4 linked regions of the Homo sapiens genome follow. The protein of the gene in region 3 purifies or fractionates together with the protein of the main gene of each other region. This does not show direct contact. Each region holds a gene or a part of one and is shown on either strand. Other genes may lie near its edges.

Region 1 (7,000 bases), on a different chromosome or scaffold from region 3:
AGAAATTAACATTCATGCTCTGCTGGCGAGGATGTAAATAGGTATAGACTTTCTTGAAAAAAATTGAGACATATATGTTTGTATGTGTGTGTATATATATGTGTGTGTATCTATCTCTCTATATATAGATATATGTGTGTATCTATCTCTCTATATGTAGATCAGCTCCATGTCATCCTTAGTCAATTCTCATAAGGAATGTCTTCACTTTTACAATCAAAGTCAGGCTGTATTAGATAGGCATATGTATAAAACCCAGACTAATAACTATTATTTTCTTTGTTAAACTTCTGAGAACACCTTCGAATAATAGGAAAAGATGACTTCCTGTTAGGAACTGTAATTAACTATGTGTTTCCTCTTCCTGGGTGCTGTCTTTAACCATCAGTCACCATAACCTGCTTATATAACAAATAAAACTGAGATCTAGACTTGTTTTTAAATTTTAAAGTGTTAAATATTCTATTTTCTCTCTCTCTCTCTCTCTATATATATATATATACACACATATATATGAAGAGCCTTTAATTTATTTCCTAGCCTTTGATTCAACAATTCCAATTCTAGGAATTTGTCTAAGGAGATAATCAGAGGTAAGAAAAGAATAGCTGTAAGAAGGTCCAAGAATAAAATATAAATTTTAAACAAAAACCTATGATAGAGCAAGAGCACCATCAACTCAGACAGACATCGCCACTTTAAATTCCAGTTCCCTTTCTAGTCTCATGCATTTCAAGGAAATCACTTCTGTTCGAACTACAAGCAGCCAGAAAGAGCAGACAGTAAAACACAAATAAGACAGCTCGGGCGCAGAGGGAGGTGGGGGGAAAGTCTCTGGAGCAACTGCCAAACTTCACCCTCACAAAATGGGCCCCAGTAAAACAGTGAGCCTTACTTAATAAGCACATTCCTTTCCCTTCAGGTGTACCAAGATAGGGAAGCAAAAAGCAGACTCGGGCGGGGTATGCCTACAGCTGCAGAAAGATGGATGGGAACAGACACACAACTCTCCCTCCCAGAAAAGCACAACAAAGAGACAGAGAAGCAGTCCAAGCCTCTGATAAACTCTCCCACCCTGAAGCCTTAGAAACTCTTAGTCTGTAGGAGAGTGTGTCTCTAACCTAACTCAGCCAGCCGCCCCTCTCAGGTTTATTCAAAATAAACCTGTCAGGCCGGGTGCGGTGGCTCACGCTTGTAATCCCAGCACTTGGGGAGGCCGAGGCGGGTGGATCACGAGGTCAAGAGATCGAGACCATCCTGGCTAAAACAGTGAAACCCTGTCTCTACTAAAAATACAAAAAAATTAGCCGGGCGTGGTGGCGGCCGCCTGTAGTTCCAGCTACTCCGGAGGCTGAGGAAGGAGAATGGCGTGAATCTGGGAGGCGGAGCTTGCAGTGAGCCGAGATTGCGCCACTGTACTCCAGCCTGGGCGACAGAGTGAGACTCCGTCTCAAAAAAATAAAAAATAAAAAATAAAAATAAATAAACAAATCTGTCCCTGTTGACTGTCAAGCCGCCCTTTGTGTTTCTCTCCTCTTTCTTTAATTCTTACAACCTATATGTCCAATAATAGGATGTTTGTTATAGTTGATTGTAATGTAACTGTAGGTTAGAATACTTTACTCATTTAAAAAATTATCTTGTCATAAAAGATTTTTAACAACCTGAGAAAATTTAAATATTTCTATGAGAAAAGGTAAGATATGTGCAATATATTATGTTATACTGCATATAATAATATGTAAGTATTATGTGCAATTTAAATCCATGTCTTATCTCAAAAGGGATTATGTAACTATATATGTATATAATAATGATAATTATTATCATTTTAAATTTATTGACCTGGGTGCAGTGGCTCACACCTGTAATCCCAGCACTTTGGGATGCTGAGGCGGGCAGATCACCTGAGGTCAGGAGTTCAAGAACAGCCTGGCCAATTGCCAAATGGCAAAACCCTGTCTCTACTAAAAATTAAAAAATTAGCCTGGCATGGCCTGTAGTCCCAGCTACTTGGGAGGCTGAGACACAAGAATCGCTTGAGCCTGGGAGGCGGAGGTTGCAGTGAGCTGAGATCGCGCCACTGCACTCCAGCCTGAGTGACAGAGCAAGACTCCGTCTCAAAAAATAAATAAATAGGCCGGGCGCTGTGGCTCACTCTTGTAATCCCAGCACTTTGGGAGGCTGAGGCGGGCGGATCACGAGGTCAGGAGATTGAGACCATCCTGGCTAACACAGTGAAACCCCGTCTCTACTAAAAATATAAAAAATTAGCTGGGCGTGGTGGCAGGCGCCTGTAATCACAGCTATTCAGGAGGCTGAGGCAGAAGAACGGCGTGAACCCGGGAGGCGGAGCTTGCAGTGAGCTGAGATCCCGCCACTGCACTCCAGCCTGGGCGACAGAGCAAGACTCCGTCTCAAAAAATAAATAAATAAATAAATAAATAAATAAATAAATAAATAAATAAATTTTTTGATACTTAATATGTGCCAGGCACTTTTCTAAGCACTTTACATAGAATGTTTCATTTAATTCCCACAACTGTATGAGGTTAATACTATCATTATTCTCATTTTGCAGATTAGGAAATCAAGACATAGAAAAATTAAGGAATTCTCCCAAGGTCACACAGCTAATAAGTAGCACATCTAGGAACTGAACCCATGCAGTCTGACTCCAAATACATACAAAAATACACATATAAATACATACACATAGGCCAGGTGTGGTGGCTCACGCCTGTAATCCCAGCACTTTGGGAGGCCAAGGTGGGCGGATCACGAGGTCAGGAATTGGAGACCAGGCTGACCAACATGGTGAAACCTCATCTCTACTAAAGATACAAAAAATTAGCCGGGTGTGGTAGCACGTGCCTGTAGTCCCAGCTACTTGGGAGGCTGAGACACAAGAATCGCTTAAGCCTGGGAGGCAGAGGTTGCAGTGAGCTGAGATCGCACCATTGCACTCCAGTCTGGGCCACAGGGTGAGAATCTGTCTCAAAAATACATACATACGTACATACATATACACATATGCATTTACTTATTTATATACATATACAGATATAGCATATATGCACAGATAATTAACATGTATAAGTCATACTCCAAAATGTTAAACATGTAGGTTAACATTTTTATTTGTGCTTTCTTTGTATTCCACATTTCCTTATTGAACATATATTAATTTTAGAACTTAAATTTTAAAACTTAGAAACTTATCTTTTCCATATTCTGCTAGCAAAATATTTTTGTCTAAGCAAGGAAATACTCCAGTGTGCCATGGAGACTAATCCAATTCCCACTTGGATGAATATTCTCCAAGATTTCCTAGCCATACAAATGCCCTGTCTCTCCCACAGTGCATTAAAATTATGGCCATCTAGTAAGGCCATTTCAAGCCCCATCTCTTTCTGAAGTCTATTCAGATATTCTTTCTTTAATTTCTGCTGCACTTATAGACAGTACAGAGCACAATACTTAATTGTTCTCAAATTGTTTCCTGTGTATTAGCTTTGGCTCCTCAATTGGATACCAGGTTCTTTATACACTAGCATCATGTCTCACCTTTTTGTTTTGTTTTGTTTTGTTCCCCACCCTATGTCACTTCTAGTACTGGCCCAACAGGAAATGTTCAATAAATACTTGATCATAGACTGACAGATGTTCTTCAAGTAACATAACTATAGTGTAATAGGAGCTTTCTGAAAATTATGGCTAATTCATTAAGAGTGAATTGATTCCAGTGATGGAAATTCATATGATGCAAAATGTGCTGCAGAAAAGAGAAGATTTGGCTGGGCACAGTGGCTTACGCCTGTAATCCCAACACTTTGAGAGGCCGAGGTGGGCAGATCACCTGAGGTCAGGAGTCTGAGACCGGCCTGACCAACATGGTGAAACCCCATCTCTACTAAATACAAAAAATTAGCTGGGTGTGGTGGCGCATGCCTGTAATCCCAGCTACTCGGGGGGCTGAGGCAGGAGAATTGCTTGAACCCGGGAGGCGAAGGTTGCAGTGAGCCCAGATTGCGTCATTGCACTCCAGCCTGGGCAACAAGAGTGAAACTCCATCTCAAAAAAAAAAAAAAAAGAAAAGAAAGAAAAGAAGATTCATTTTAATACTGATTTAATTGATATATATTATTTTAATTCACTCAGTTTAAAACTAGATTTTTCCCACAAAATTCCAGATATTAGCAATATCCCTGAAATAAATGAGAGATCCTCCTACATTACTCTAATCAAATGATAATTAATTAAGTCATGAGGCATAGAAACAATTTGAGACACAAAATAAATAATGGTAATATTTGGGTTATAACACTTAAAATACAATAACTATTAATTGATAGTGATAAAACTAAGCCAAATAAACAAATAAATGTGGGAGAAGGGATAGTTTTTCCTTACTGAAGAATTTCCTTACTGTAGAATACTAATAAATGTAAAATTAATGAGAAAAAGAAAGTCACCATTAGGCAAACACCATAGTAGTAACTGTTACAGGCAAGATCCACTGAAGGATGCTAAACTTAGTGAGTAAAAGTTTGAGAAGAAACAGGACAGTCTCAAAGTACCTTCCCCAAGATATTTGTTAATTACAAAAGGAAAAATAATAACCCTACCTTGGAAAAACCTAGCAGAAGACACCTGACAGACATCACCTTAACGAAGTGCTCAAGGTCAATAAAGCACATCCATTTCATGCACCCCCACATGAGATACTAAGAAAGGCACAACATCACTTCTGAGGAGTTCTTTCCAAAAATGCATAACCTCAATCTAATCATGAGAAAATATCAAAGTCAAATTGAGGGACATTCTACAAAATACTGACAGTAGTCTTCATACTGTCCAGGTCATGAAAGACAAAGAAGGTAGAAGAAAGCATCAGATTGGAGGTCATTAAGGGTTAAGCGTAATAAGGGATCCTGGCTTGGATCCTAGAACAGAAAAAGGGCATTATTAGGAAAACTGATGAAATTAGATAAGACTTATAATTTAGATCAGGGATTGATTGACTCTGGCCTGCTGCTGCCTGTTTTTTAATTAAAGTTTTATTGGAAGACAGCCAAGATCATTCACTTATATTGTCTATGGCTGTTTTCTCCAATGGCAGAGCTGAGTAGTTAGGACAGAGACTGTAAGGCCTGCAAAGCCTAAAATATTTGCTATGCCAGGATCAGCATTAGGTGAGGCAAGCAGGACACCTAGGTCTAAGGAAATATCCTCTCTCTCTCCCTCTCCCTCTCTCTCTCTCTCTCTCTCTGTCTCTCTCAAATTTCTGTACATGCGCAACCCTAAATGTTAGTGCCTCCTTAAATTTTGCATCCTACACACCCTACTTGCCTCATTCTAGTCCTGACTCTGTCTATCTAGTCCTTTACAAAAAAATGTTTGCTGGACCATGGTAGGGTTAACTATAGCAATGTTAATTTTCTGATTTTTTGGTGGTTTGTGCTTGCGATCGGTGGCTGCGTCACTCTGGTAAAGGTGTGCAGTTTTGGGCCATGATCTCTGGGCTGGGATGATCCAGGCTCTCGGTAGAGGCAAGGGAGCCCAGCTATAGCCATGGCCAGTACAATGGTAGCAGTTGGACTGACCATTGCTGCTGCAGGATTTGCAGGCCATTATGTTTTGCAAGCCATGGAGCACATGGAGCCTCAAGTAAAGCAAGTTTTTCAAAGTCTATCAAAATCTGCCTTCAGTGGTGGCTATTACTGAGGTGAGTTTGAACCCAAAATGACAAAACAAGAAGCAGCATTAATGCTAGGGGTAAGCCCTACTGCCAAAAAAGGGAAAATAAGAGATGCTCATTGATAAATTATACTCTTAAATCATAGCAGCCAAAATCAGTGAAGCTAGAAATTTACTAGAAGGTCAAGCTAAAAAATGAAGTAAATGTATGATGAATTTTAAGTTCATTTTAGTTTATGTATATGAGTACCAAGCTTTTATAATAAAATGCCTCAGAGCTATAATTTTTTTTAATTTCTGATTTTGATCATTATACTTTCATTAGGTATGATGTTAACATAAAGGGAAGCTGGGTTAAGGGTATATAGGAACTCTGTTGTACTATTTTTACAACTTTTCTGTAAGTCAAAAATTATTGCAAAATAAAACATCTTAAAAATAATGCAAACTCAAGGATAGGATAAGTGTACTAAGTTCCAAGTGCACAGTAACACTGTGGGGGCCAAAACAACAGCCACAACCACAACCACCACAACTTAGCGCTCTGCACCAGGCACTGTTCAAAGTACTTTATATATCACGTATTATTTAATCCCCACAACTCTGTGAGGTGGGTACTATTTACTTCCATTTACAGGTTAGAAAACTGAGGAATAGAGGCCGGGCGCGGTGGCTCATGCCTGTAATCCCAACACTTTGGGAGGCCAAGGCGGCGGATCACTTGAGGTCAGGAGTTCAAGGCCAGCCTGGACAACATGGTGAAAGCTCATCTGTACAAAAATACAAAAATTAGCTGGGCATAGTGGCATGCACGTATAATCCCTGCTACTCAGGAGGCTGAAGCAGGAGAATCACTTGAACCCAGGAGGCTGCAGTGAGCTGAGATCCTGCCACTGCACTCCAGCCTGGGCAACACAGTGAGACTTCATCTCAAAGAAACAAAAATTTAAAAAAAAAATCCAATATAGGGAGAAAGGCTAACTGTCTTGGAATCAATCTTTGTTAAATTGTTTTGAAATGGGGAATATATTGTTTTCTATATAACATGGAAATCCTCCCATAATTTATATATGTCATTATGTAAACTAGAAAATTAGTCTCATTGCTTGTTTTCATGGTTGTATTTTCAATTTCTGAAAGATAATTTTAAAAACTCTCTGAGAAGGAAAAGCTTCAGGATTACTGCTCTAGAACCATTAGAAAATACATAATTTTACTTTAATCAATTTCTAGCACAAACTTTAAATTGTAAGAACTATATACCAAAGCAAAAGTATTATGTGGGTGTCTCAATTCAATT
Region 2 (3,297 bases), on a different chromosome or scaffold from region 3:
AGAAATTGCCACAGCCACCCCAACCTTCAGTAACCACCACCCTGGTCAGTAGCCTTCAACATTGAGGCAAGATCCTGCAGCAGCAAAAAGATTATGACTTGCTGAAGGCTCAGATTATCGTATTTTTTTTTAGCAATAAAAAGTATTTTAAATTAAGGTATGTATGTTTTTTGACAGAATATTATTGCATATACTTAATAGACTATAGTATAGTATAAATATAACTTTTTTATATGCAGTGGGAAACCAAAAAGCTCATGTGGCTGGCTTGATTGCAATATTTGCTTTACTGCAGTAGGCCGGGGCTGAACCCACAGTATCTCCAAAGTATGCCTGTGTTAGGGGAAGGGGTACTGCAGGAGGGGAAATCTCATGAGGAAAGTCAGCCAAGTGATCACTTGATATTTCAAGACACAAGAAATTCAGCACTGTAAAAAATTAAGCTCAATAATTATACTGCCACGACTGTATTTCCAGTGTACAAGGCGCCAATAATTGGATCACCCACAAGACAACACACTGCGTTTAACATTTTTATTTTTAACTCCGCTTTGGTAGTACAAAAGTCATAAAAGTACAAACCAGACAGTTAAAAATACACTTGACACTCGAAATGGTGAAAATTTTCCTTACAAATTTTTACATCAAGGTAGTAGCCAACTCATTGATGACACCAAAAAGTTGTCCATCATTAGTGTTTTCTAGAGAAAGTCTGTTGTGGATTCCCTCATCCTTAGAAAGGAGGAGGAGTAACACAAGACCTGTAAACATCAGTTGCTTTGGGAACACAGGAATTCTCATCAGATAGTTCAGTATAAACCAGTAAAAAGCGTATGTGTTGAAAATACTGAACGCTTAATTTTGGCAAATTTGGAAGCCTGCCAGACAAAAACCGCTCAAGTATTTATTAGAAAATATTTAAAACATACTCTTGGTATCAATACAGTTTTAAATATTTTTGAGTATTCTCTTGCCTGTTGTATTGCTATTTAAAAAAAAGTGCTCTGACTTGAATAAGATGGAAAAATAATTAAAGCTAAAGAATATCTTACATTTTATCCCCCACCATTTTGAGGGCATATTTTTAAAGCAAAAAAGTATGCTTATTTGTTTTTAATTAAAATGATTAGCCTAGACTGCACATATATTATTTACACTAATACATACCCCTAAAAGTCCTATATTGCTACTTTCTGGATCTCAGTGAAATTTATTTCCATACTGACTTTCTCCAGTCCACAGTGTATATGAATATGTACACATACAGTGTTTATTAGTTGTCAGTAAAAATTCTCATGAAACTAAATTCCCCATTTATTTAAAAGGTTAGAAATGTTTAGTTTGATGCTGGAAATAAAATCATTGAAGTCTATGTACAGTAAATACTTTGAAGTATATTTTTATGGAAATCATCTTTTGGGAGACAAATGAAAGATGTGCATTTTCCTATATGAAATAAAAGAAGTGCTCAAGGCACCCCCCAACACTGACATGGAGGCGGGTCTTGGAGACCTTGTAACTGGCCTCCCCCACAGCTCACCCCAGAGCTACCATAAATCATGTAATACTATTTATGCCTCTGGGTCCTTTCAGGTGTTTTGTAAAATGTACAGTTATAAAAAAAAAAAAGAAAAAGAAAAGTTTGCCAGGCCTAAAGGGAAAAGTAACTGGAGTGTTTTAAATAATGAGCATTAGTTACAGGATGAAAAACAGGAAATACACAAAGAAAAACATGCCAGAGGTAGGTGCAGGCCCATCTTATATGAGAAGCAGGGTTCTAGGCCGGGCGCAGTGGCTCAAGCCTGTAATCCCAGAACTTTGGGAGGCCGAGGCGGGTGGATCACGAGGTCAGGAGATCGAGACCATCTTCGCTAATGCGGTGAAACCCCGTCTCTCCTAAAAATACAAAAAAAATAAGCCAAGCGTGGTGGTGGGCACCTGTAGTCCCAGCTACTCAGGAGGCTGAGGCAGGAGAATGGCGTGAACTCAGAAGGTGGAGCTTGCAGTGAGCTGAGATCGTGCCACTGCACTCCAGCCTGGGCGACAGAGCGAGACTCCGCCTCAAAAAAAAAAAAAAAAAAAAAAAAAGAGAGAAGCAGGGTTCTTTTGTTTTGGCCTTGGGTTGTCCAAACAAATTTGTGTGTGTGTGACTTTCAACCATTTTCTCCTTTATTCAATGGATTAACCAAGAATCGCTCAGCTAAAGGTTAAAAAAAAAAAAAAAACAAAAAAAAACAAAAAACCGGGTGCAGTGGCCCACGCCTATATTCCCAGCACTTTGGGAGGCCGAGGCGGGTAGATCGCCTGAGGTCAGGAGTTCAAGACCAGCCTGACCAATATAGTGATACCCCGTCTCTACTAAAAATACAAAAATTAGTCGAGCGTGGTGGTGCATGCCTGTAATCCCAGCTACTTGGGAGGCTGAGGCAGGAGAATCGCTTGAACCTGGGGAGGTGGAGATTGAGGTGAGTGGAGATTGTGCCACTGCACTCCAGCCTAGGGGACACAGCGAGACTCTGCCTCAAAAAAAAAAAAAAAAAAACCTTCTCAAAATGTGTAAGTGCTGTAGGAGTGACATGGTGGTGGCAGGAGTTAATGCTGAATTTGTGGTCAAGGAATCCAAAGTCTAGCATCTGGTCCCATCTGACTCCATGGTCCCTTGGGGAATCAACTCCTCAGGGCTAACTAGATTATTTCCACTGAGCTTTTACCACTGAAGATTCATCTTTTATCTTTTGTAACAGCTAACCTGTATGTATCAAGATCTTCTTACAACCAGTGTCAAAATAGGATGCAGGAACTGGAAAAAGAAACACACACTCACGTGCACACATGCATACACATATACACACACACCCCTGAGCATAAGCTCAGACTGTACATGAATAGTATCACTGCACATACTCATCATAATGGAAAAACTACAGTGTGTACACCAAGGCCTGGGATTAGGGGCTGGGAAGAGTAGAGGCTGGGAGTGGTTAAGAAGATAAAAACAGCTCTTTCCTTCCCTGGAAGTATAATAAAATTTTCAACAGACTCTTTCAACCAAAACTTGTTTCAAAGCAAACTGAATTCTGTATATGGCACAGCAATAATATTCCCTTTTAGGTTTTATCCACGTGCCTGCTGACTCCATGATAGAAACTGTATAAAATATATAAAAATATTCCCAAGGCAACTTCATATAAGTTTTCAGTCTCTTAGAGCTCTTCAAGTCAAGTCATTGCTGCAAGAGAAAACAAAAAATGTAGATCTTTAACCAAGGGTAAGCATCATATCACATATTAATCTGCC
Region 3 (7,370 bases):
CTTTTGTGCTAGCAGCACACAGATCCCGTTCTTCCAGGCTCAGGTCAGCTGTCGGCCACCAGGCCAGGGTTTGCCACTGGCAAGTTGGATTTTGTGTTACGTGCCTAACCAGGAGTTGTCACCGCTTGAGGCTTAACCTGGTTCTGGGCGGCTCGGTGTGTGTGTCCCAAGGCCATGCCACACAGTCCGGCTCCTCAGCCACTGGTCAGAAGGTGCCCCCAACCCTGGTGGCCTCATCCAGGTTTGTAGGATGGGCCCTGAGTCTCACTGGCCCCTGAGCGTCCAGGACACTGGCCAGAAGGGTCCGCTCCACCCCCACCTCCTGTTGCCTAGCAACAAGGGCGGTGGGTCGCAGTGGCCCTCGGGCCACAAAACTGGCTCTGGGAGCTGGGGGGCGGGGAGTCTGGCTTTAATGTCATTTGGGAGCTTCTTCCGGGAGCTGGGTCACCTGCCTCCCGGGGCACAGTGGGGCCGGAGTGACTAATGCAATCAGTGGTCACCTGAGCCACTGTGCTGGGTGGGTGGGAGAGGGCACACTGCCCTGCCCCTGCCTCTTGTGCTGCCCTGCTGGGAGCCCCCCACGTGGGAAATGGTGGGTGAGGGGGATCCAGGGGATGGGCAAGGCAAGAGGCACAGTGGGGCTTGGTAGCCTCAGCCCTAGGGGTGGGCTCAGGATCCCTCAAAAACACGGGGGTGTGGCTAGATGCCATGGGGGCTGAGCTGAGGCCTGAGACTCCCCTGCTGCATCCTGTGCCGGCCTCGGGGGCCTGGGCAGCTGCACCTCTGCTATAGAGGGGTCAGGAACTCAGCCCACACAGCCCCACCCACAGGTGAACTTGCCCCAGGGACACGAAGGCCACCAGCTCACCTCAAACACCTTCACAGCTCGGGACAGCGCCGAGGGCTTGGTGGCCCTCGGGGAGAAGAGCAGGTTTAGCACGGCCTTCCCCTCCTTCTCCTCAAAGGCCACAGCCTCCAGGGGGTCCCCGGGCTCCGAGGGGACTGCAGCGGCCGCTGCTGCCACCGCCGCCTCCCGCTCCTTGCGGGCGTCCTCGATGAGGCTCTGCCTGCGCCCAATGAACCGCGGGGACTGTGGGGACAAGGGGCACCCATGCCTCCTCCACCTGCTGAGACCCGGGGACCTCCACCCACAGCTGGTCCCACAGTCGGGCAGCGCTGATGGCACACAGAGGCAGGGGATGAGAGCACGTTTTTGAGCGCCTACTGTGTGCCTGCTGGGGCAGATGCTAGCCGAGGTGCCTGCGGGCATTGCACGCCCTTCCCGATGGGGGCAGCCCAGTCAGAAGCAGTGGTGGTGGGGGAGGAGTGGGGGCTGGGAAGGTGCTCGCCTGCTCCCCACTCTGTGGCGAGCAGACAGACAGAGACGCTGTGTCACTCATCCCCAGGCCAGGCGCTAACTGGATTAGTGATGGGAAGAGGGCGATGTCTTGATGGACAGTGGCATCGGCTGCCGGGGAGGGAACGGCAGCTCAGGAAGGAGCTGCCCCCACAGGGCCCCAGTGAACAACCCCCCTACCCTCCTGGCTGCCGCACAGGGGACCCTTTCTCACACTCCCATCAGGACACCTGTCCTCGGGCCCTGCCCCTCTGTGCCACCCCGCAGGCGCCCGCTCCTGGCTGCCTTGTCATCCCTCCACCCTTTGTCATAGCTCTGGGCGCAGGTGTCTCTCCCTGGGCTCAGCGCCTCTGACCCCTCGATCCCAGAGCCGTCCCAGGCCTGGACAGAGGGGGACTTGGCAGACACCTGGGGCTCATCCCTTGGAGCTGAACTCCCAAGAAGGCTCTGGGCCCCTTGTAAGAGAAGAATCAGCTTCATCCTGAGCTTCCAGGGTTGTGGAACATGAAGGGGAGCAGCAGAAGCCCCTCCCAGAGTCCCCTCTTACTTACCCTTGGGGTGGGGGTGTAGGATGCAGCTGGGGCTGCAGTTCCAGGCCACGGAGAGCCTGTGAGGCTGGGCCCCGGGGCGCCCTGGGGAGGGGATGCCTGATGGGGAGCCTGGTGGGGGAGGGTAGGGGAGGGCGGGGGAGGACGGGGGAGGGCGCCCTGTGTCCCTGAGAAGGTACCTGGAAATGACACTGCTACAACTCACACCACATTTCAATCAAGGTCCATAAATAAAAACCCATTTTAAATGTGCCAGGGAGCCCAAGGTTCTGAGTGCCCAAGGAGGCACCGAAGACCCCTCCTGTGGGCTGAAAAGCTCCCGATTATCCAGCCTGGCCCACACAGTCCCCTGTACACAGGGCTTCCGAGTGCAGGTCACAGGGAACACAGACTCCATGGTGAATGAATGAATGAATGAATGAATGAATGAGGGAAATAAGGGAGGAACAGGCCAATGGGAATCACCCCAGAGCCCAGATACCCTTTGAATTTTGCCCCCTATTTGCCCAGGACCCCCCACCATGAGCTGCTGCTAGAGCCTGGGAAGGGCCTTGGGGCTGCCTCCCCAAGCAGGCAGGCTGGTTGGGGTGCTGACTAGGGCAGCTGGGGCAGAGGGAGGCAGGGGCAGGTGGGAGTAGGGTGGGGGCTGGGTGCAGCAGCCGGGGACCTCTGGCCATCTTGGATTTTTTGGATGGATTTGTTTCCACATTCCGATCGTTAAGATTCAAGATGAAACAAGACACAGAGACCCACACGACCCCCGAGAGAGGTCGGCCTAAGAGGGGCACACACAGGGACAGGCATCACCTCACCCTCCCCCAACAGGGACTCAAACACCAGGCACAGGGGATGCCGCTGTGCCCAGGCCTCCACATCCACGCCGCGTCCCAGGGGTTTGCATGGACCCTGAGCCTGGGGCTGCCAGCCAGGCTGGGGAGTAGCAGAGGCAGCTGGCACCAGCCCTGGGCTCCGGTCCACTGCGGCCGCCGGGCACCTACCTGCCCTCTTACCATGATGGCCTCTGCCTGCTTGGCGTCCAGCTCAGACACGGCCCTGCGGAAGCCCTTGGCCTGTGGCGTGGTGGCGTCGGGGGTGGGCATGGCTCAGTGTGGAGGTCCGGGCTCCGTCTCCACAGCCCTGGCCCAGCAGCCTCTTATAAGCTGAGCTGACGTCAAAGCCCCCTCTGGGTCCCCCACCTTCCCCTCCTTACATCCCCCACCCCTGCCTGCTGTGCCTGATGGAGGCGGGGGTGGGTGAGGAAGGAGGGAGGCGCAGGAGAAAGGGCTCGTCCGTGGAATCTAATTGCCTTCACTCCCCAGCCCTGTCTGAATCATCCTCAGCCCGCGGGCTTGCGGGGACCAGGGGCTCGTGCTCTGCGGGGGGCTGAGACAGCCAGGGTCCCCTTGGCCCCACAGCCCTCAAGAGAGCACACAGGGAGGGGCTTTCTGGCAGCCCAGGGGCACACTTTTAATGAACACCAGAACCTCGTGGCAGACCGACCCAGAAAGCCCCAAGACGGGGAATCCAGCCTCCAGCCTCAGATGTCAGGAGGCAATTTGTTTGCTTCTCCAGAAGATTCCAGGCCGTGTGTCTCATAGACGTGGTTCCTAGGAGTGCCATCTGCCCACAGCCCCCGGGCCCTGCAGGTGTGGCCCTTGCAGCGGCTTCCCAAGCTCGCCCCGTGGGGTCCAGAATGTCCCAGGAGGGCCCACCTGTCCAGTGTGGAGGACCCTGGGAGGCTGAAGAAGACATCTCTAAGGAGACGCCACGCGTTTCCAAATGGCTGCCACCTCCTGCATCACAGTCCCCACCAGGGTTGCCAGGGCGACCAGGGCCAGGGACGGCTTCCACCCACCCCACTCAGCCCCTCTATGGCCCACTGCTAGCTCCTGGCTTCCCTCGGGGTCCTGTGGCCCCTTCTTTAAAGAGCACGCACGTCCCTCAGTGCTGAGGGCCCTGATGCCTTCCCCTTGGAGAGACCTTTGCAGTTTCTCCTCTACCCCACCAGGCCCCGGGTTGAGGGTGACCCTGGGGTGACCTGAGAACTCCCTTGAGGACAACCCCAGCCTAGAGCCTCCCCCAAGTTCCATGTCCGCCCCGCAGGCACCCGCATCCAGCCCACGCCCACTGGCACCTCCTGCTCCCAGCCGCTGCCCCACCCAGGGAGAGTGATGCCCCTGCCCAGGGTGGCTTCTGGCCCTTCTGGTGGAAGGGGAGGCCTCCCCATCCCTCTGGGGTCAGCAGAGATGGCCAGAGCCTGCCTTGACAATGCTGGACTGTACAGAGGGAAGGACGTGGCCCCAGAGTGCATGGCCTGCGGCTGAACGCTGCCACCGCTGTCCCTCCTGGAGAAGAACCGTTTCCGACAGGGCTTGGGGCTTCCTGTATCTGCTGGGCTTTCTGGTGTTGGCAGCCCAAGATGACACCCTGGGCCCAGCAGGAGCCAGAAGCCCTAGACGCTCCCTGACTTCTCGAAGGCCTACCCCGGCTGGTCACTGTGGCAGCCAGAGCTGGCATCTCTCAGGGCCCACTCTGCTCCTGTCAGCTGTGGGACTCCCCGCTCCCCGTTCTCTCTTCAACAATAGCCCCTGGGACCTTTCCTAAAACTGCTTCAGCCATGGCATCCCTGTCCCACACCCCTCCGTGGCTCCTCGCTGCCCTCTGCAGGCAGGCTGAGTGCTCAGTCAAAGCAAAGGGAAGACCCCCCAACCCTTCCCACTTCCTGGCCCAGAAGGATTTGGGGCTCCGTGATCCCCGGTTTGCAGTGTCATTCCTCACCCACCTCTTATCCGGGTGAACTCCTATGCATCCCACAAAACCCAGTTCCGTCGCTGCTCACTCTGCAATGCCTGCCCTTTCTTGCCACGATATTAATGCCCCTCCCTTGCGCTCCTCTGGAACATCCCTGGGGGCAGGGAAGCCTACCGCTCGGCCCCTGCTGTCTCTCAGCACCCAGTGCAGACCCTGTCCTCTCTCGGAGATGCTATGCCCCTCCACAGTGTTCCCCAAAGGCCTCCACCTCCTGTGGGTCCTGCCCACAGTAGGTCTGGGTGCCTGCTCAGAAGGGCGTTGGAGGGATTTGCCTCCAAGACCTCAGCCTGAAGGCTCAGCCTCTGGCCTCGCCCTGCGGCCCGTGAGCTTCTGTCACCCAGGGCTGAGGCCCACCCACCTGAGTCCCTGGTGATGGCCCTTGGGTGGCCCAGCCTCCATGCCCAGTGTCCAGGCCTGGTGAAGCTCTGCATGGCTCCCCCGAGCTCCCCTCAAGGTCCCCAGAAAGAGTCTCATTTGCCTCCCCCAGGGTCGGCTGCTGAGGATCCCTCGGTGAGGCAGCTCCAGGCCCCCCAGCACCCCGCCCCAGCTCTGCCCAGGGCGGCCCCAGTGCTCAGGTGCCCAGGCCAGGAGGAGAGACATGCCTGATGAACACCACGCCGGAGGCTCATGGCCCACACTGCCGGATGTGGATTTAACCTTTCAGCAAATGTCTTCCACTGATACAAATATTGCTTTTTAATTCGGTTTCCTGCCGGGCCAGTTGTGCTTTCATGGAAGCCCGATGGGAACTAAGCTTACTAGACTCTTCCTTGGGGCCAGGCTCTCTGGAGGCAGGAGCCCAGGCCAGGTGCTGAGGCTGGGGAGGCCCCTGGACCCCTGTGGAGGTGAGTGCTGCCCTCAGGTGCCTGCACCTGCCCTGCCTCCAGCCTCCCGCCCCAATCAGGCAGCATCCATCCCTGCCTATCCATTCCTGGGAAGCCTGTCCCACACGCCAGCCCCTTCAGGGCCGGGGAACCATGCTGTACCCCAGATCCAAGGCCCCTGTTGGCACAGAGGTGCCCCCGACTCCAGTCCTGGCCCTGGCCCCGCCCTCCTTTGTGCCGTGCCCCTCTCCGATTCCAGATGGTGAGGGTATCCATGGAGGCCCCAAAAGTCTACCCTGGCCAGCCTCCCCGCTCCCAGCCCGAGGGTACCTCTCCAGTCTGGACCACCCATGATTGAGCCATGCCCCGTGTCACCCACCTGCCTCTGGCCCTCTCCAGAGATGTCCACAAACACCAGGAAGGCTCCACTCCAGCGCCCACGGGACGAGGCCTCTCCACGCTGGGCACAGGCCTGGAGGGAGCACACGGCTGGCCCCTGGTCTTGGTAGAGCTCAGTGCTGGGTCAGCCTGCGGCATCCACGTTCGGGCAGCTGAGGTGTTCACAGACCCATTCTGCAGATGCGAGGACTGAGGTTCTGAGGTGCAACTTCTCAGGGGTCATGCAGTGAGTCTCCAGCCCAGGTTTCCCAACTCCCAAGACACTGGTCTTTCCTTTTTTTCTTTTTTTTTGAGACCGAGTCTCGCTCTGTCACCCAGGCTGGAGTGCAATGGCGCGATCTCGGCTCACTGCAAGCTCCGCCTCCCCGGTTCACGCCATTCTCCTGCCTCAGCCTCCCAAGTAGCTGGGACTACAGGCGCCCACCACCACGCCCAGCTAACTTTTTGTATTTTTAGTGGAGACGGGGTTTCACTGTGTTAGCCAGGATGGTCTCGATCTCCTGACTTCGTGATCCGCCCACCTCGGCCTCCCAAAGTGCTGGGATTACAGGCGTGAGCCACTGCGCCCGGCCTGACACTGGTCTTTCAAAGATCCGGTGGCATCCATCCCCTGGCACTGTGGGGCTCAGGAACCTAGGCCACAGGGAACAAATCAGACAGGCTGCTGTGACCAGCGTCCCATCTACAGAGACCCCAGAGGGAAGGGCAGAGCTGGGACAGGGTTCTCTGGAGGCCGAGGTCACGCCCCAAGAGACCCCTGGGGCCAGCATACTGGCCCCTGGGAAGGAGAAGGGCTGGAGCGGAGCCCCACCAGGGGGGGCTATGAGGTGGGGCCAGGAGTGAGGGCCGACCCAGGCCAGATCAGAGACAAAACAGGTGACCAGGGGAGTGGGGGCCCCGCAGAGGTCTGAGGAGCCCTTGCTGTCCCCTCCATTGCACCAGGCTCCACCTTCCTGCACGGAGCCCTCTGGGCTTCCCTCCATACCCCACCACCCTCCACCACTTCCGCCGTCCCTGTGGTTACAGCCCCTGCCACCATGGCCGTAAGGAATGCTGAGCCAGCTCCACAATGGAGCGTGTTCTCTCTCAACAGCCTCTCAGCCCGAGGCTTAATCACCCAGATTAATCACCCAGCACGTCTGTGCCCTGGGACTGGTGCCCACTCCCCGCGTGGGGCAGGGTCAGAGTGCTGACTTCGACCTGGCTGTGAGGCTGCTCCGCCCACAGGGCGAGTCTCTGAGGCCACCAGGCCTGCTCCCCAGCACCAGCCTTGCCCACCACGGGCCCTTCCCAAATCCAGGCCTGCTGGAGGAGCCCAGCCATGTGCTGGGGAGGAGCCCAGGAGGTGTTCTGGGTCCCCTGGCTGACAGGCATCGCCCTGTGGCTCTGCAGGGTCTAGCCATGGCCTGGCTGTGGTGTGCACAGGGCTCA
Region 4 (5,080 bases), on a different chromosome or scaffold from region 3:
CTGCTTCCCTCCTCTTCCCAGTGGACTGTTTTGGTCATATGGCCCAATCTGGGTGTTTCTAGCTTGGCAAACTCTTACTCCGTTTTTGTGGCCTGACTTAACTGACATCTCCTGGGTTGCCTTCCCAGGCTCCTCTGGTGAGTCAGATGCTTCACAGTTGTGTGCTGGGGAAGCCCAGTGCTGGGGGAGCCCTGTGCCTGTGGAGCCCTGTGCTGGGGGTGTCCAGTGCTGGGGAGCCCTGTGCCGGGGGTGCCCTGTGCTTGGGTGGTCCTGAACAGCATCATGATAGGTTTGCCAGATTCTGTGCCCCAGAGGGCAGGGATGGTGTTCAGATATCTGTCTCATGCCAGCAGTTAGCTCTCAGGCTTACACACAGGCCTGTGTTAACCCTCCCAGCCCCCCTGGGAGGGGAAGGGTAAGATCCCATTGGAGAAATGAGGCACCTGTGGCTCAGAGGGGCCACTTGCCCCAGTGCCTTTGGTGGCTCTCTGCTCCTGTAAGCAGGCCCTTAGTCCTCTCCTAAAATCAACTCATGGCAGTCTTTCTCAGTTCACAGGAAAAAGTGTTTAGGCTTTTCATAAAACATAGTTTTTCATCTATGTTTTTAGATCACGTTCCTGCTGAGCTGCATTTGAGCGTCAACAATCCCCTTAGAGGCCACTGATTAAGTCTAGTATGTTCTTATGGCCTCTGCTTGGTGCTGGTTGTGTTCCAACAATTCTTCAGATCCCATGGTGTTGTGCGGTACTGTGCTGAGAGGTCTTGACTGCCAGGGGCTTGGCTGCCGGGACTAGTTTGAGAGCCACTCATAGAGTCAATTGAGAATGAGACCTGAGATCAGACTTTGGATGAAGGTGTCCAAGCCCAGTGTTCTTGTTATTCCAGCATCTTGTGGCCCCGATCCCACCTCAATACCTGGGGAGTGATAGGCCGACCATGTTTGCTGAAGGGGAAGGAAGCCAACACTTATTAGATAGAGTCCGAACTTACCCCACAGCCCCTATGAGGAGGTATTATTTCCCCATTTAACAGATGAGGGAACTGGTGCTTTGAGAAGTTAACTTACTTGAGATCACATGCTTGGTAAGTGGCAAAGCTGGGATTTGATCCCAGGTATGTCTGACTCACTGTTTCAAATTAGTATGGATTGTTCCTACTTTTGTGCCAGGCCCTGTGCTCGCCACCTTTTATCATTCGGCCACACCAACTTGTGATGTAGATAATATCACCATTATCCAGTTGAGGAAACAGGCTAGAGTGGCCGTGTGTGAGGAAGGTGTTAAATGAGAATGAAACCCATGAGTTGAAAACCCATGCTCTTCCCCACGGAAGACCCCTTGTGTTAATTAACTAGGGGCCAGGCTGAGCCCCAGCTCTCACCCTCTCTCCTTCCCCAGGTCAGCCGTCAGATCCAGGAGCATGAGCAGGACTCTGCGCTGCGGGAGCAGCTGAGCGGCTATAAGCGGATGCGACGACAGCACCAGAAGCAGCTGCTGGCCCTGGAGTCACGGCTGAGGGGTGAACGGGAGGAGCACAGTGCACGGCTGCAGCGGGAGCTTGAGGCGCAGCGGGCTGGCTTTGGGGCAGAGGCAGAAAAGCTGGCCCGGCGGCACCAGGCCATAGGTGAGAAGGAGGCACGAGCTGCCCAGGCCGAGGAGCGGAAGTTCCAGCAGCACATCCTTGGGCAGCAGAAGAAGGAGCTGGCTGCCCTGCTGGAGGCACAGAAGCGGACCTACAAACTTCGCAAGGAACAGCTGAAGGAGGTGAGCTAGGGCTGCTTGGGGGCGGAGCCGATGGCGAGCCAGGTGGGTCCTGACCCTGCTTCCCTCTGCACTCGCCCAGGAGCTCCAGGAGAACCCCAGCACTCCCAAGCGGGAGAAGGCCGAGTGGCTGCTGCGGCAGAAGGAGCAGCTCCAGCAGTGCCAGGCGGAGGAGGAAGCAGGGCTGCTGCGGCGGCAGCGCCAGTACTTTGAGCTGCAGTGTCGCCAGTACAAGCGCAAGATGTTGCTGGCTCGGCACAGCCTGGACCAGGACCTGCTGCGGGAGGTAGGCATCCCAATCTCTGTTCCCCTCCCGCTCACTCGTGGATCCCAGGGACCCACCCTTTTCCATTTTCCTCATTCTTGTCTTCTTTCTCCTTGGCCCTCGAGTGTTACAGTTCAGCTTTGCTTCAGTGCCCCTTTTACTTCTCATCCCCAACAGACCCTGCCAGAATTTCCTTAGGCCTCTTTTCCCAGGCCAGGGAGGAGCTTGCCTCCCCTACACCCTCATCTCCTGCCATCCCCAGCTCCCTCTGCCAAGGAGCCCTGGCCCCTCACTTCCTTGATACTGACCAGGCCCTGGGCCCTGTGTTTCTTCCGCCATCCCCAGCTCCCTCTGCCAAGGAGCCCTGGCCTCTCACTTCCTTGATACTGACCAGGCCCCGGGCCCTGCATTTCTTCTGCCTCAGGACCTGAACAAGAAGCAGACCCAGAAGGACTTGGAGTGTGCACTGCTGCTTCGGCAGCACGAGGCCACGCGGGAGCTGGAGCTGCGGCAGCTCCAGGCCGTGCAGCGCACGCGGGCTGAGCTCACCCGCCTGCAGCACCAGACGGAGCTGGGCAACCAGCTGGAGTACAACAAGCGGCGTGAGCAAGAGTTGCGGCAGAAGCATGCGGCCCAGGTTCGCCAGCAGCCCAAGAGCCTCAAAGTACGTGCAGGCCAGCGCCCCCCGGGCCTTCCACTCCCCATTCCTGGGGCTCTGGGCCCACCCAACACAGGCACCCCTATAGAACAGCAGCCCTGCTCACCTGGCCAGGAGGCAGTCCTGGACCAAAGAATGCTTGGCGAGGAGGAGGAAGCAGTTGGAGAGAGAAGGATTCTGGGAAAGGAAGGGGCCACTTTGGAGCCCAAGCAGCAGAGGATTCTGGGGGAAGAATCAGGAGCCCCTAGTCCCAGTCCACAAAAACATGGGAGCCTGGTTGATGAGGAAGTTTGGGGTCTGCCTGAGGAGATAGAGGAGCTTAGGGTGCCCTCCCTTGTACCCCAGGAGAGGAGCATTGTTGGCCAGGAGGAGGCTGGGACATGGAGCTTGTGGGGGAAGGAGGATGAGAGTCTTCTGGATGAGGAGTTTGAGCTTGGCTGGGTCCAGGGCCCAGCACTGACTCCCGTCCCTGAGGAGGAGGAAGAAGAGGAAGAGGGGGCTCCGATTGGGACCCCTAGGGATCCTGGAGATGGTTGTCCTTCCCCCGACATCCCTCCTGAACCCCCTCCAACACACCTGAGGCCCTGCCCTGCCAGCCAGCTCCCTGGACTCCTGTCCCATGGCCTCCTGGCCGGCCTCTCCTTTGCAGTGGGGTCCTCCTCTGGCCTCCTGCCCCTCCTGCTGCTGCTGCTGCTTCCATTGCTGGCAGCCCAGGGTGGGGGTGGCCTGCAGGCAGCGCTGCTGGCCCTTGAGGTGGGGCTGGTGGGTCTGGGGGCCTCCTACCTGCTCCTTTGTACAGCCCTGCACCTGCCCTCCAGTCTTTTCCTACTCCTGGCCCAGGGTACCGCACTGGGGGCCGTCCTGGGCCTGAGCTGGCGCCGAGGCCTCATGGGTGTTCCCCTGGGCCTTGGAGCTGCCTGGCTCTTAGCTTGGCCAGGCCTAGCTCTACCTCTGGTGGCTATGGCAGCGGGGGGCAGATGGGTGCGGCAGCAGGGCCCCCGGGTGCGCCGGGGCATATCTCGACTCTGGTTGCGGGTTCTGCTGCGCCTGTCACCCATGGCCTTCCGGGCCCTGCAGGGCTGTGGGGCTGTGGGGGACCGGGGTCTGTTTGCACTGTACCCCAAAACCAACAAGGATGGCTTCCGCAGCCGCCTGCCCGTCCCTGGGCCCCGGCGGCGTAATCCCCGCACCACCCAACACCCATTAGCTCTGTTGGCAAGGGTCTGGGTCCTGTGCAAGGGCTGGAACTGGCGTCTGGCACGGGCCAGCCAGGGTTTAGCATCCCACTTGCCCCCGTGGGCCATCCACACACTGGCCAGCTGGGGCCTGCTTCGGGGTGAACGGCCCACCCGAATCCCCCGGCTACTACCACGCAGCCAGCGCCAGCTAGGGCCCCCTGCCTCCCGCCAGCCACTGCCAGGGACTCTAGCCGGGCGGAGGTCACGCACCCGCCAGTCCCGGGCCCTGCCCCCCTGGAGGTAGCTGACTCCAGCCCTTCCAGCCCAAATCTAGAGCATTGAGCACTTTATCTCCCACGACTCAGTGAAGTTTCTCCAGTCCCTAGTCCTCTCTTTTCACCCACCTTCCTCAGTTTGCTCACTTACCCCAGGCCCAGCCCTTCGGACCTCTAGACAGGCAGCCTCCTCAGCTGTGGAGTCCAGCAGTCACTCTGTGTTCTCCTGGCGCTCCTCCCCTAAGTTATTGCTGTTCGCCCGCTGTGTGTGCTCATCCTCACCCTCATTGACTCAGGCCTGGGGCCAGGGGTGGTGGAGGGTGGGAAGAGTCATGTTTTTTTTCTCCTCTTTGATTTTGTTTTTCTGTCTCCCTTCCAACCTGTCCCCTTCCCCCCACCAAAAAAAGAAAAAGACAAACACAAATAAAATATCTGAGCGGAACTGTGCCTTTGGCCCAGGCTGCCTCTGTCTGCTTTGTCCTGCCGCCTAGCCTCCCCGGTATGCCCCCAGGCTGACCCTCGGCCCGGCTCCATGACCTCTTCACCCCATCTCCGTTATCTCAGCCCCCTCACTCCTCCAGCCTCATGCTCTCTGCCTTCATAGCTTCATTGCACCATGACCACCACCGGCTCTGGGGTCTGGGCCCCTGTAGAACTTCACCGAACTTCTTGGTCCCACAGAGCGCCTGTTTGCGGGTTCCTTCCAGAGGTCTTAGTTTCCAGGCCCTTGGTCTCCTCATCCCTTGCCTTTTCTCCCAACCATGGCTGCAGGGGACCAAATTGCTCTCCTGCATCAGGCATTACCCTAGTGGGTTGGGGGACGGGGCTGCAGACCCTCCACAGTAGGGGGTGCTGAGCTGGGGGCAACCAGGCGGAGTATGAAGGCTGTGGCAGCAGGATTGAGTGTGGGCCTGGAGTGGGAGCTGAGTGTGTGAGGGGCCGGG

The links.
Region 1: the proteins of TH (region 3) and DNAJC12 purify together in Homo sapiens (affinity purification with mass spectrometry; 2 studies listed by BioGRID and IntAct, with this or other methods). This does not show direct contact.
Region 2: the proteins of TH (region 3) and RELL1 purify together in Homo sapiens (affinity purification with mass spectrometry; 2 studies listed by BioGRID and IntAct, with this or other methods). This does not show direct contact.
Region 4: the proteins of TH (region 3) and TAOK2 purify together in Homo sapiens (affinity purification with mass spectrometry; 2 studies listed by BioGRID and IntAct, with this or other methods). This does not show direct contact.

The regions. Positions count from the first base shown.
Region 1 is NC_000010.11:67,828,189-67,835,188, forward strand, and holds part of DNAJC12 (dnaJ homolog subfamily C member 12), read right to left. Parts: intron 1-7,000. UniProt on the Homo sapiens protein: Probable co-chaperone that participates in the proper folding of biopterin-dependent aromatic amino acid hydroxylases, which include phenylalanine-4-hydroxylase (PAH), tyrosine 3-monooxygenase (TH) and peripheral and neuronal tryptophan hydroxylases (TPH1 and TPH2).
Region 2 is NC_000004.12:37,610,114-37,613,410, forward strand, and holds the end of RELL1 (RELT-like protein 1 precursor), read right to left. Parts: intron 3,230-3,297; 3' UTR 521-3,229; downstream 1-520. UniProt on the Homo sapiens protein: Induces activation of MAPK14/p38 cascade, when overexpressed. Induces apoptosis, when overexpressed.
Region 3 is NC_000011.10:2,168,782-2,176,151, forward strand, and holds the start of TH (tyrosine 3-monooxygenase), read right to left. Parts: upstream 3,035-7,370; 5' UTR 3,006-3,034; coding exon 2,916-3,005; coding exon of another isoform or gene 2,904-2,915; intron 1,990-2,903; coding exon of another isoform or gene 1,909-1,989; intron 1,091-1,908; coding exon 869-1,090; intron 1-868. UniProt on the Homo sapiens protein: Catalyzes the conversion of L-tyrosine to L-dihydroxyphenylalanine (L-Dopa), the rate-limiting step in the biosynthesis of catecholamines, dopamine, noradrenaline, and adrenaline. Uses tetrahydrobiopterin and molecular oxygen to convert tyrosine to L-Dopa.
Region 4 is NC_000016.10:29,983,816-29,988,895, forward strand, and holds the end of TAOK2 (serine/threonine-protein kinase TAO2), read left to right. Parts: intron 1-1,397; coding exon 1,398-1,763; intron 1,764-1,842; coding exon 1,843-2,046; intron 2,047-2,449; coding exon 2,450-4,165; 3' UTR 4,166-4,543; downstream 4,544-5,080. UniProt on the Homo sapiens protein: Serine/threonine-protein kinase involved in different processes such as membrane blebbing and apoptotic bodies formation DNA damage response and MAPK14/p38 MAPK stress-activated MAPK cascade.